Regions from separate parts of the Homo sapiens genome. Here region 1 is linked to region 2. The links come from fine-mapping of genetic effects on plasma protein levels. A gene starts in region 2. The other region holds a variant in brackets. All regions are shown on one strand. Distances are between the middles of the regions.

Region 1 (5,221 bases), 27 kb before region 2:
CATCCACTTGGCCAGCCTGGACCTCCAGGTCAGCGGAAGGGGGCTGAACGCTGAGGTCAGTGGTCTTGAGGTCCCCCTGCATGGAGGGGAGGCTCACGTCGGCCTCCACCTTCAACGCAGACACATCCGCTGAGGCCTCGATGGACTTGCCAAGGGCAGACACCCCAAACGACAGCATCTTGAACTTGGGCATTTTGAACTTGCTGTCTTTGGCAGTCACGTCCTTGTCGGCCAGGGACATGTCCCCCTCCAGCCGCGCACCATCCAGCTTGGCTCCTGGGGCCTTGACGTCCACCTCCACGCTGGGCAGAGACACCTCCACATCAGGGGCTGTCACTTCCACCTTGGGGTCTTTTAGGTCCAGCTTGGGGCCCTTGATGTCTATTTCGGGGCCCTTGAGGTCCACTTTGGGCACCTTGAAACTGGGCATCTGCAGCTTGGGCAGGTGCCCTTTGAGGCCGACTTCCTCGGGCACAGGGCCCTCCAGGAGTTTCACGTCCACCTGGCCAGCCTGGACCTTCACGTCGGCGGAAAGGGGCTGAATGCTGAGGTCAGTGGTCTTGAGGTCCCCCTGCATGGAGGGGAGACTCATGTCGGCCTCCACCTTGGGTGGAGACACATCCACCGAGGCCTCGATGGACTTGCCTGGGGCAGACACCCCAAACGACGGCATCTTGAACTTGGGCATTTTGAACTTGCTGTCTTTGGTAGTCAGGTCCTTGTTGGCCAGGGTCAGGTCCCCCTGCAGATGCGCACTATCCAGCTTGGCTCTTGGGGCCTGGACGTCCACCTCCATGCTGGGCAGAGACACCTCGACATCGGGGACTCTCATTTCCACCTTGGGGTCTTTTAGGTCCAGTTTGGGGCCCTTGATGTCCACCTGGGGGCCCTTGAGGTCCACTTTGGGCATCTTCAAACTGGGCATCTCCACCTTGGGCAGGTGCCCTTTGAGGCCAGCTCCCTCGGGCACGTGGCCCTCCGGGAGCTTCACATCCACCTGGCCAGTCTGGACCTTCAGGTCGGCAGAAGGGGGCTGAATGCTGAGGTCAGTGGTCTTCAGGTCCCCCTGCATGGAGGGGAGACTCACGTCGGCCTCCACCTTGGGTGCAGGCACATCCACCGAGGCCTCGATGGACCTCCCTGGGGCCGATACCCCGAACGACGGCATCTTGAATTTGGGCATTTTGAACTTGCTGTCTTTGGCAGTCATGTCCTTGTCGGCCAGGGACAGGTCTCCCTCCAGCCGCGCACCATCCAGCTTAGCCTTCTGGGCCTGGACATCCACCTCCATGCTGGGCAGAGACACCTCGACATCGGGGGCTGTCACTTCCGCCTTGGGGCCTTTCAGGTCCAGCTTGGCGCCCTTAACATCTGTCTGGGGGCCCTTGAGGTCCACTTTGGGCATCTTGAAACTGGGCATATCCACCTTGGGCAAGTGCCCTTTGAGGCCGGCTCCCTCGGGCACCTGGCCCTCCGGGAGCTTCATGTCCACTTGGCCAGCCTGGACCACCAGGTCTGCAGAAGGGAGCGGAATGCAGAGGTCCGTGGTCTTGAGGTCCCCCTGCATGGAGGGGAGGCTCACTTCGGCCTCCACCTTCGGCGCAGACACATCCACCGAGGCCTCGATGGACTTGCCTGGGGCAGACACCCCGAACGACGGCATCTTGAACTTGGGCATTTTGAACTTGCTGTCTTTGGCAGTCACATCCTTGTCGGCCAGGGACAGGTCACCCTCCAGCCGCACACTGTCCAGCTTGGCTCCTGGAGCCTCGACGTCCACCTCCACGCTGGGCAGAGACACCTCCACGTCGGGGGCCATCACCTCCGCCTTGGGGCCTTTCAGGTCCAGCTTGGGGCCCTTGACGTCCATCTGGGGGCCCTTGAGGGCCACTTTGGGCATCTTCAAACTGGGCATCTGCACCTTGGGGAGGTGCCCTTTGAAGCCGGCTCCCTCGGGAAGGGGGCCCTCCGGGAGTTTCACGTTCACTTGGCCAGCCTGGACCTCCAGGTCGGCGGAAGGGGACTGAATGCTGAGGTCAGTGGTCTTCAGGTCCCCCTGCATGGAGGGGAGGCTCACATCAGCTTCCACCTTCGGCTCAGACACATCCACCGAGGCCTCGATGGACTTGCCTGGGGCCGACACCCCAAATGATGGCATCTTGAACTTGGGCATTTTGAACTTGCTGTCTTTGGCAGTCACCGCCTTGTCGGCCAGGGACAGGTCCCCCTCCAGCTGCGCACCATCCAGCTTTGCTCTCGGGGCCTGGACGTCCACCTCCATGCTGGACAGAGACATCTTCACATCGGGGGCTGTCACTTCCACCTTGGGGCCTTTCAGGTCCAGCTTGGGGCCCTTAACATCTATCTGGGGCCCCTTGAGGTCCACTTTGGGCATCTTGAAACTGGGCATCTGCACTTTGGGCAGGTGCCCTTTGAGGCCGGCTCCCTCGGACACAGGGCCCTCTGGGAGTTTCACGTCCACTTGGCCAGCCTGGACCTCCAGGTCAGCAGAAGGGGGCTGTATGCTCAGGTCAGTGGCCTTGAGGTCCCCCTGCATGGAGGGGAGGCTCACGTCGGCCTCCACCTTCGGCGCAGACACATCCACTGAGGCCTCGATGGACTTGCCTGGGGCAGACACCCCGAACGACGGCATCTTGAACTTGGGCATTTTGAACTTGCTGTCTTTGGTAGTCAAGTCCTTGTCGGCCAGGGACATGTCCTCCTCCAGCCGTCCACCATCCAGCTTGGCTCCTGGGGCCTCGACATCCACCTCCACGCTGGGCAGAGAAACCTCCACATCAGGGGCTGTCACTTCCACCTTGGGGTCTTTTAGGTCCAGCTTGGGGCCCTTGATGTCTATTTCAGGGCCCTTGAGGTCCACTTTGGGCACCTTGAAACTGGGCATCTGCAGCTTGGGCAGGTGCCCTTTGAGGCCGGCTCCCTCGGGCACGGGGCCCTCT[G/A]GGAGTTTCACGTCCAATTGGCCAGCCTGGAGCTCCAGGTCAGTGGAAGGGGGCTGAATGCTGAGGTCAGTGGTCTTGAGGTCCCCCTGCATGGAGGGGAGGCTCATGTCGGCCTCCACCTTGGGTGCAGACAGGTCCACGGAGGCCTCAATGGACTTGCCTGGGGCAGACACCCCGAACGACGGCATCTTGAACTTGGGCATTTTGAACTTGCTGTCTTTGGCAGTCACGTCCTTGTCAGCCAGGGACAGGTCCCCGTCCAGCTGTGCGCCATCCAACTTGGCTCCCGGGGCCTGCATGTCCACCTCCACACTGGGCAGAGACACAGCCACTTCGTGGGCCGTCACCTCTGCCTTATGACCTTTCAGGTCCAGCTTGGGGCCCCTGACTTCCACCTGGGGGCCCTTGAGGTCCACTTTGGGCATCTTCAAACTAGGCATCTGCACCTTGGGCAGGTGCCCTTTGAAGCCGGCTCCCTCAGGCACGTGGCCCTCCAGGAGCTTCACGTCCACCTGGCCAGCGTGGACCTCCAGGTCAGCGGAAGGGGGCTGAATGCTGAGGTCAGTGGTCTTGAGGTCCCCCTGCATGGAGGGGAGACTCACGTCGGCCTCCACTTTGGGTGCAGACACATCCACCGAGGCCTCGATGGACTTGCCTGGGGCTGACGCCCCGAACGATGGCATCTTGAACTTGGGCATTTTGAACCTGCTGTCTTTGGCAGTCACATCCTTGTCGGCCAGGGACAGTTCCCCCTCCAGCCGCGCACTGTCCAGCTTGGCTCCCGGGGCCTCGACGTCCACCTCCACGCTGGGCAGAGACACCTCCACATCAGGGGCTGTGACTTCCGCCTTGGGGCTTTTCAGGTCCAGCTTGGGGCCCTTGACGTCCACCTGGGGGCCCTTGAGGGCCACTTTGGGCATCTTGAAACTGGGCATCTCCACCTTGGGCAAGTGCCCTTTAAGGCCAGCTCCCTCGGGCAGGTGGCCCTCCGGGAGCTTCACATCCACCTGGTCAGCCTGGACCTTCAGGTCAGTAGAAGCAGGCTGAATGCTGAGGTCAGTGGTCTTCAGGTCCCCCTGCATGGAGGGGAGACTCAGGTCGGCCTCCACCTTGGGTGCAGACACATCCACCAAGGCCTTGATGGACTTCCCTGGGGCCGATACCCCGAACGACGGCATCTTGAACTTGGGCATTTTGAACTTGCTGTCTTTGGCAGTCACGTCCTTGTCGGCCAGGGACAGGTCCCCCTCCAGCCACGCACCATCCAGCTTGGCCTTCTGGGCCTGGACATCCACCTCCATGCTGGGCAGAGACACCTCGCCATCGGGGGCTGTCACTTCCGCCTTGGGGCCTTTCAGGTCCAGCTTGGGGCCCTTAACATCTATCTGGGGGCCCTTGAGGTCCACTTTGGGCATCTTGAAACTGGGCATCTCCACTTTGGGCAGGTGCACTTTGGGGCCGGCTCCCTCGGGCACAGGGCCCTCCGGAAGTTTCACATCCACTTGGCCAGCCTGGACCTCCAGGTCAGCGGAAGGGGGCTGAATGCTGAGGTCAGTGGCCTTGAGGTCCCCCTGCATGGAGGAGAGGCTCACGTCGGCCTCCACCTTCGGCGCAGACACATCCACCGAGTCCTCCATGGACTTGCCTGGGGCCGACACCCCGAATGATGGCATCTTGAACTTGGGCATTTTGAACTTGCTGTCTTTGGCAGTCACCTCCTTGTCGGCCAGGGACAGGTCCCCCTCCAGCCGCGCACCATCCAGCTTTGCTCTCGGGGCCTGGACGTCCACCTCCATGCTGGACAGAGACATCTTCACATCGGGGGCTGTCACTTCCGCCTTGGGGCCTTTCAGGTCCAGCTTGGGGCCCTTGAGGTCCACTTTGGGCATCTTCAAACTGGGCCTCTGCACCTTGGGCAGGTGCCCTTTGAGGCTGGCTCCCTCGGGCAGGGGGCCCTCCGGAAGTTTCACATCCACTTGGCCATCCTGGACCTCCAGGTCAGCGGAAGGGGTCTGGACGCTGAGGTCAGTGGTCTTGAGGTCCCCCTGCATGGAGAGGAGGCTCACGTCGGCCTCCACCTTCGGCGCAGACACATCCACCGAGGCCTCCATGGACTTGCCTGGGGCTGACGCCCCGAACAATGGCATCTTGAACTTGGGCATTTTGAACTTGCTGTCTTTGGTGGCCACTTCCTTTTCTGTCAGAATTTGTTCCTTTTTTAAGCGTTTTTCATCGTGTATTAGTTGTATTTTTGTTGTGTT
Region 2 (5,221 bases):
ACTGCGTCACTGTCCCCAGCCTCAGTGTCCTTGTCTGCAGAATGGGAATACAGCCCTCCCCCAGTGTAGATGACCCAGTCAGGGAGACACCAGGGTGGTGACAGACCCGCCCGCGCTGTCACTCGGCATCCCTGGCTGCGTGGAGCTAGCAGCACAGGCAGCTGCAATCACTCCTGACCCCGAATGTGAGGTCCTGACCCACATTTGCAGCCTGAGGCCCTGAAGAGGGCACCAGCGAGGCACAGAACAGCGAGACCACCTCCACAGCTGCCTTGCTTTGCACCCTTCTTGGGAAAGGGCCCAGCCATCTCATGACCCCCACCGCAGAGAAGAGACCACCCACACATCTTCGCATGGTATCACCACCTGGGGCCTTCCCAACACGGTGGTGCTTTCTTGGGGGGTCGTGGGAGGTGCTCAGGCCACACCGGGGCAGCAGGTGCAGGGTGGGGGCCGGGGCCGGGGAGGGGTTCCCTGTCTCCCCAGTTATCAGGGGCCCAGCTCTGCCCCTGGGAAAGAGGCAACCTGCCCCTGGAGTAGGCAAGAGTGTGACACCCAGAGCCCACTGGGAGTGAACTGGCTGGTGTTACAGTCGGCAGCGCTGCGTGGGGTGGTCCCAGCATGGCCACCAGGGGGCAGCCTCGGCACAAAAGCCGCCCAGGAGATGGCTCCCTGCTGGGCTGGTGCCTGGTGTGTCGGGCAGAGGGCAGGTTTGGACTGGACAGGAAGACGAGAGCAGGGGAGAGTCCGCCCATCTCCAGCCTGCTGAGAGGAAACTGCAGGTGGAAAAGGCCTGGACCAAATCCAGGCTGGGAAAGGCAGTAGTTGGCAGGGTGCTTGTCAGGAATGCACGTTCCTGGGCCGCAGGGTTGGGGAGGGTCTGGGAACCGGTGTGCTGGACAGAACTCCCAAGGTCTCTGATCTTGCAAGTCTCCTACCAAAGCTCCAGCGAGAGCCACTGACCTTATTCCCTAAGAGCGGATGGTTCCGTAGGCTGGACACAGGGAGGGACTGCCCCAGACGGGCTGGGAACCATGAAGCCAGCACAAGCCTCTGTGGAGGCAGGGGGTGGATGAGATGGTCCTGGACCCTGCAGCTTGGGAGTCTCTGGGTGCCCGTGAGTGAGGAGGAAGCAGAGCAGAAAGGCTGTGCAGGGAAGCTGGGGGCAGGGTAGTGGTCCCATGCCTGGGGGCCCTGCCCTTCTCCCTCTGAGGAGGTCGACCTGCAGCCATGTGGGCAGGGCCAGTCATAGTGAAAGAGGAGGGGGCCAGGGGCCTCCAGCCCACCGGAGCCATCATCCTCCCGCTGCTGTGCCCAAACACCTTGGGCTCCCATCTGCGACACCGTGAAGCAGGTGCTGTAGGGGCCTCCCTGCTCTGGAGCCCCCCAGACAAGCCTCCCACCCTAAGTGCGCACCAGACAGACAGGCCACAGGAGGGGCCTTGGTAGTGCCTGCTGCAGCTGGGGGGCATGCCCAGGCCAGGGGCACCCCTCTCACCTGCAGCATTGTCGGCACCATTAGCATTGACCTGTTTTCCCCAAGGAGTGGGGTCCAGCCTGCACCAGTGCCGGCCAGCCCAACCCCCTGGCCAGTGGCTGCCAATGCCCTGGGTGTGGTCAGCTGCAGCAGCATAGACCCAGCGCCCAAGGGACTGCCCTGCCCCCCTCAGCCCTGCCCTCCAAGATGCTGAGACACCCAGGCCCCGGAACCAGGCCCAGTGCAGGGACAGACACACAAAGAGCAGCAGGTACACATGCCGTAGCCTGCGGCTCAGAGGGAGGCTACTGACCATCCCTGGGGGCATGCCAGTAGGTAGCACCCACTTTCCCTTGCCCAGCACTGCGGGACCCTGTGGCCTGACTTTGACCCCATTCAGGCCCCTCACCAGGCCCCAGACCTCAGGCCTAGCCCTGCCACAGCCTCCACCTAGCCAGCGACCCCACCACACAGCCACACAGTAGACGCAGCCCAGCCCTGCCTGGAAGCCCCGGACCAAAGTGGAGAGCCCAGACTCCTGGACCAGCCTGGCTGCTCTCCCGCAAAGCAGGTGAGAGGGCAAGCCTGGTGCAGGTGCCCCGGGTCCCGGCGGCCCCGGCTTTCACGCCCCTTGCAGACACCAGCCCTGCTCCAGAGTGCGGTAGCACCTCCCAGGAGGCCGCCTCTCGACCAGACAGCGTCCCAGGAGCGGGGCAGGAGCGAGAAGGAGAGACAGACAGGGACCGCGAGTGACAGAGGGAGTGAGCGACAGAGACGAGTCAGCCACCGAGAAACAAAGTGAGCGACAGAGACAGTCTCAGAGGCCGGGAGAGGAGCAGGAACCTACAGCCACGGACAGGTAGAACGCGAGGCATGGGAGAAGAGACTCCAGCGGCCGGGAAGGCCCAGAACCACGCGCGAGTCCCGCAGGCGTCTCCGAGTCCCCCGCCCCCAAGGCCCGCACTGCGCGCCCCTGGACACGCCCCGGCGCGCGCCCTCGCGCGTAGCCCACCCGCCCCAGGGGAGCGGGCTGCAGGCGGGGAGGGGCGCACCGCTGCCGGGGGTTCCGGGCCAGGTGGGCAGCACCATGTGGAAGCAGTCGCACATCGCGGCGGCCAGGCGGTGCGGGCCTGGCGGCCCGTCGCGTCCAGTCGCTGGTCCCGGCTCCGGCGCACGGGGCGGGCGGGCGGGAGCCGCGCTCTGCCCCGCTGCCCTGCGCTGCCGCGGGCGGCCGACCTCGGACTGCGGACACCGCGCGCCAGGCTACCCAGCCGCTCAGCTAGGACCCCGCCCGGCTCCGCCCAGCCCTGCCGGGCCACTGCGGAGCGCGCTCGCGGGCGGTGCCGTCGGCCTCATTCAGCCCATTGGCTGCCGTCGCCGCGGCCCCGCCCCTCCCAGCCAGGCCCCGCCCCACCCCGCGCCCCCGGCCCGCCTGTCGCGTCCGCAGAATTAACTTTGGACTCCCGCCAGGGAGCGACCTCTGGATCCCCGCACCGAGGCTCCTGGACTTGCCGCTGTCTTCACCTCCCATTCCGGGGGAGACAGACACTTTAGTCAGAAGCTGGGGTGGGGGGCAGCCTGCGGGGACAACAGGGGTCGCGGGCACCGCAGGAGGTGATCTGGCAGCATAAGGACAAGATAGAATTCTGCAGGGGCTGGTGGGTGGCAGATACGAGGACGCGGCTGAGAGCGTGCAGCGGGAACAGGGCGCCCCGGGCAGGGCTGCGGGGTGGGCGCCGCGTGCGGGAGCGCCCAGCGCTGGGGGCAGTCCTGGAGCCAGAACCCCGCCCAGAGTCATCCTTTCTGCTGATTCTTGTCAAGAGCCTAGGGCCTAGGACACAGCGGCAACCAGCACCCCACTGGCCCTGCCCCAGGGGCTCCAGGTCTGGCGTAGACACAAGCAAGCCTGTAAGGATGAGGCGTTCTGCAGGGCGGCACTGCCCTGGGGGCGGGGGAACGGAGGTCCTGGAGGGCTCCTGGCAGTGTAAGCTGGGACCTTAGGGGTGAGACATGTGCCAGGCAGTGTAGGAAGCGTTCTGGAGAGAGGGGACAGAGTAGCGTGTGTGCAGAGAATGGGGGCAAAAGGGCTGGGGTTGAAAGTCAGGCCCAGTGGGCGGGGGCAGGGCAGCAAGGAGGCTGAGGGGGCTCCTGTCGGTAGGAGGTGCCACTTAAGGCTCCAAGCAGGGTCTCTGAGCGTGGTGAGAGCTGAGGAAAGACTGCGCAGGTGGCTAGGGGTGTTGGCATGGGGCACAGCTGGAAACAGGAGCAGTGGAACCACGGCCATGGTATGGGAGGGAGTGAAAGGATATGCAGGCAGAGGGGACTTGGTGAGGATCAGAGTGCAGAGGGTGGGAGCCTCCCTGGGATCTAGCTTGGGCACCACACAGAGGCAGCACACCTGGGGGTGTGGACAGGGAGGGCAGGGGCCCAAGGGAGTTCTAAGAGTTTGGTGACGCCTGGCCTGGTGTAGACCCAAACCGGGCATACCCCAGAAGGAGTGGAGTTCTGCAGGGATTGTCGGGGAAGGCAGGGCTGGAAGAGACCCAGGAGAGGACCGCCACCTCCATGAGGAGCTGCCTGGCAATGTCCAGGGGTGTGGGTCAGATGCAGGGACACACACACACACGGACACACATACGGATACACACACACATACATACATACAGAGATAAAGACACAGAGACACACAGACACACACGGACAGAGACACAGACACACAGATACACAGGTACACATACAGACACACACACAGAGGCACACACAGACACACACAGAGACACACAGACACACATGGACAGAGACACAGACACAGAGATACACAGGTACACATAGAGGCACACTCACACACACACAGACACACACACAGAGACACACAGACACATACACATAGAGACACAAACACACATGCTCTGTCATACACACACACACACACACACACACACGGACACCTTTTCCTGGGGTGGGAAGAGGCCAGGCTGTACCGGAAGGGCCAGGCAGACACACACACTCATAGATAAGATCACAAACTCACCAAGACACAGACACAGGCCACCTGAGATATTTGATACACTCAGGCCTGCATGCATGAACACCCACACCAGGATACAGACCCATGCACGTGTATACATACACACAGGGGCACACGCATTCCTGGGCTCATTTGGAGACCACGCACAGCTAGCGGGCCCAGGTGAGCCACCCGGGCACGATGACTCACCCTAGACAGTTCCCGTTAGCCGCGCTGCAGCCACCGGGCAGCCATCCAGCAGCAGGTCAGATGGACGCCAGAGCCACTGCTGGGAAGAGGCCCTGGCAGCCTCCTGCCAGTGAGCCCAGGCATGATGGGCACAACCTTCTCCCTCGTGTGGGGACCTGGCGCAGGTCTTACCCCACCCCCTCGCAGTGTCCTTTTTTCGGGGCTGAGCAGTGTTGCCTGGGGTCCAGAGGCCCTGCACTTACCTCCCTCCCCAGGAGCCCACCCTGCTCTGGTCACCTGGAGTCAGTCACTCCCTGGACACAGGGAGAGAGCCACTAGGGTGCCTGGGTGCATACACCTCTGTGTGTGTCCCTGGATGTGTCTATGCCTCTGCCTGGTCTGCTGGGGTTTCGCCCGCTAGTCCTCTGTGTCTGAGTCTGGCTGCAGGGCCTGGGAACGAGGGGCCGCTCAGGGCACTCACCCACCTTTGTGTCCTCAGCCCCTTTAGGTGTGTGCCCTTGACAAAGTCATGTGGCCTCCTGGGTCCC

Which allele goes with the higher level. Alleles are on the strand shown, and positions count from the first base shown. The strength of an association depends on the size of the effect and on how common the allele is.
As copies of A replace G in region 1, the plasma level of the protein whose gene starts at base 2,721 in region 2 goes down (moderate association).

What was found. A credible set is the group of variants that fine-mapping cannot tell apart. PIP is the posterior inclusion probability: the model's chance that the variant is causal. Protein levels are from antibody-based Olink assays in UK Biobank. Linkage for the fine-mapping came from a reference panel and not from the study's own genotypes, which makes the PIPs less certain.
Region 1: its variant is the best candidate, but not a certain one, in a credible set for the plasma level of the AHNAK2 protein (UK Biobank, PIP 0.65). The variant lies in the coding sequence of AHNAK2. If it changes the protein, the assay may bind it differently, which can mimic a change of level.

The regions. Positions count from the first base shown.
Region 1 is chr14:104,948,301-104,953,521 of GRCh38, forward strand. It overlaps AHNAK2 (AHNAK nucleoprotein 2), which reads right to left. Exons shown (of 7, transcript NM_138420.4): 7 at 1-5,221. Among named protein-coding and RNA genes, the nearest start is that of PLD4, 26 kb to the left of the region's middle. The variant G/A (reference allele first, on the strand shown) is at 2,961.
Region 2 is chr14:104,975,654-104,980,874 of GRCh38, forward strand. It overlaps AHNAK2 (AHNAK nucleoprotein 2), which reads right to left and starts at 2,721. Exons shown (of 7, transcript NM_138420.4): 1 at 2,530-2,721. The coding sequence starts at 2,584. RefSeq lists an enhancer at 99-178 and silencers at 379-598, 2,705-2,864.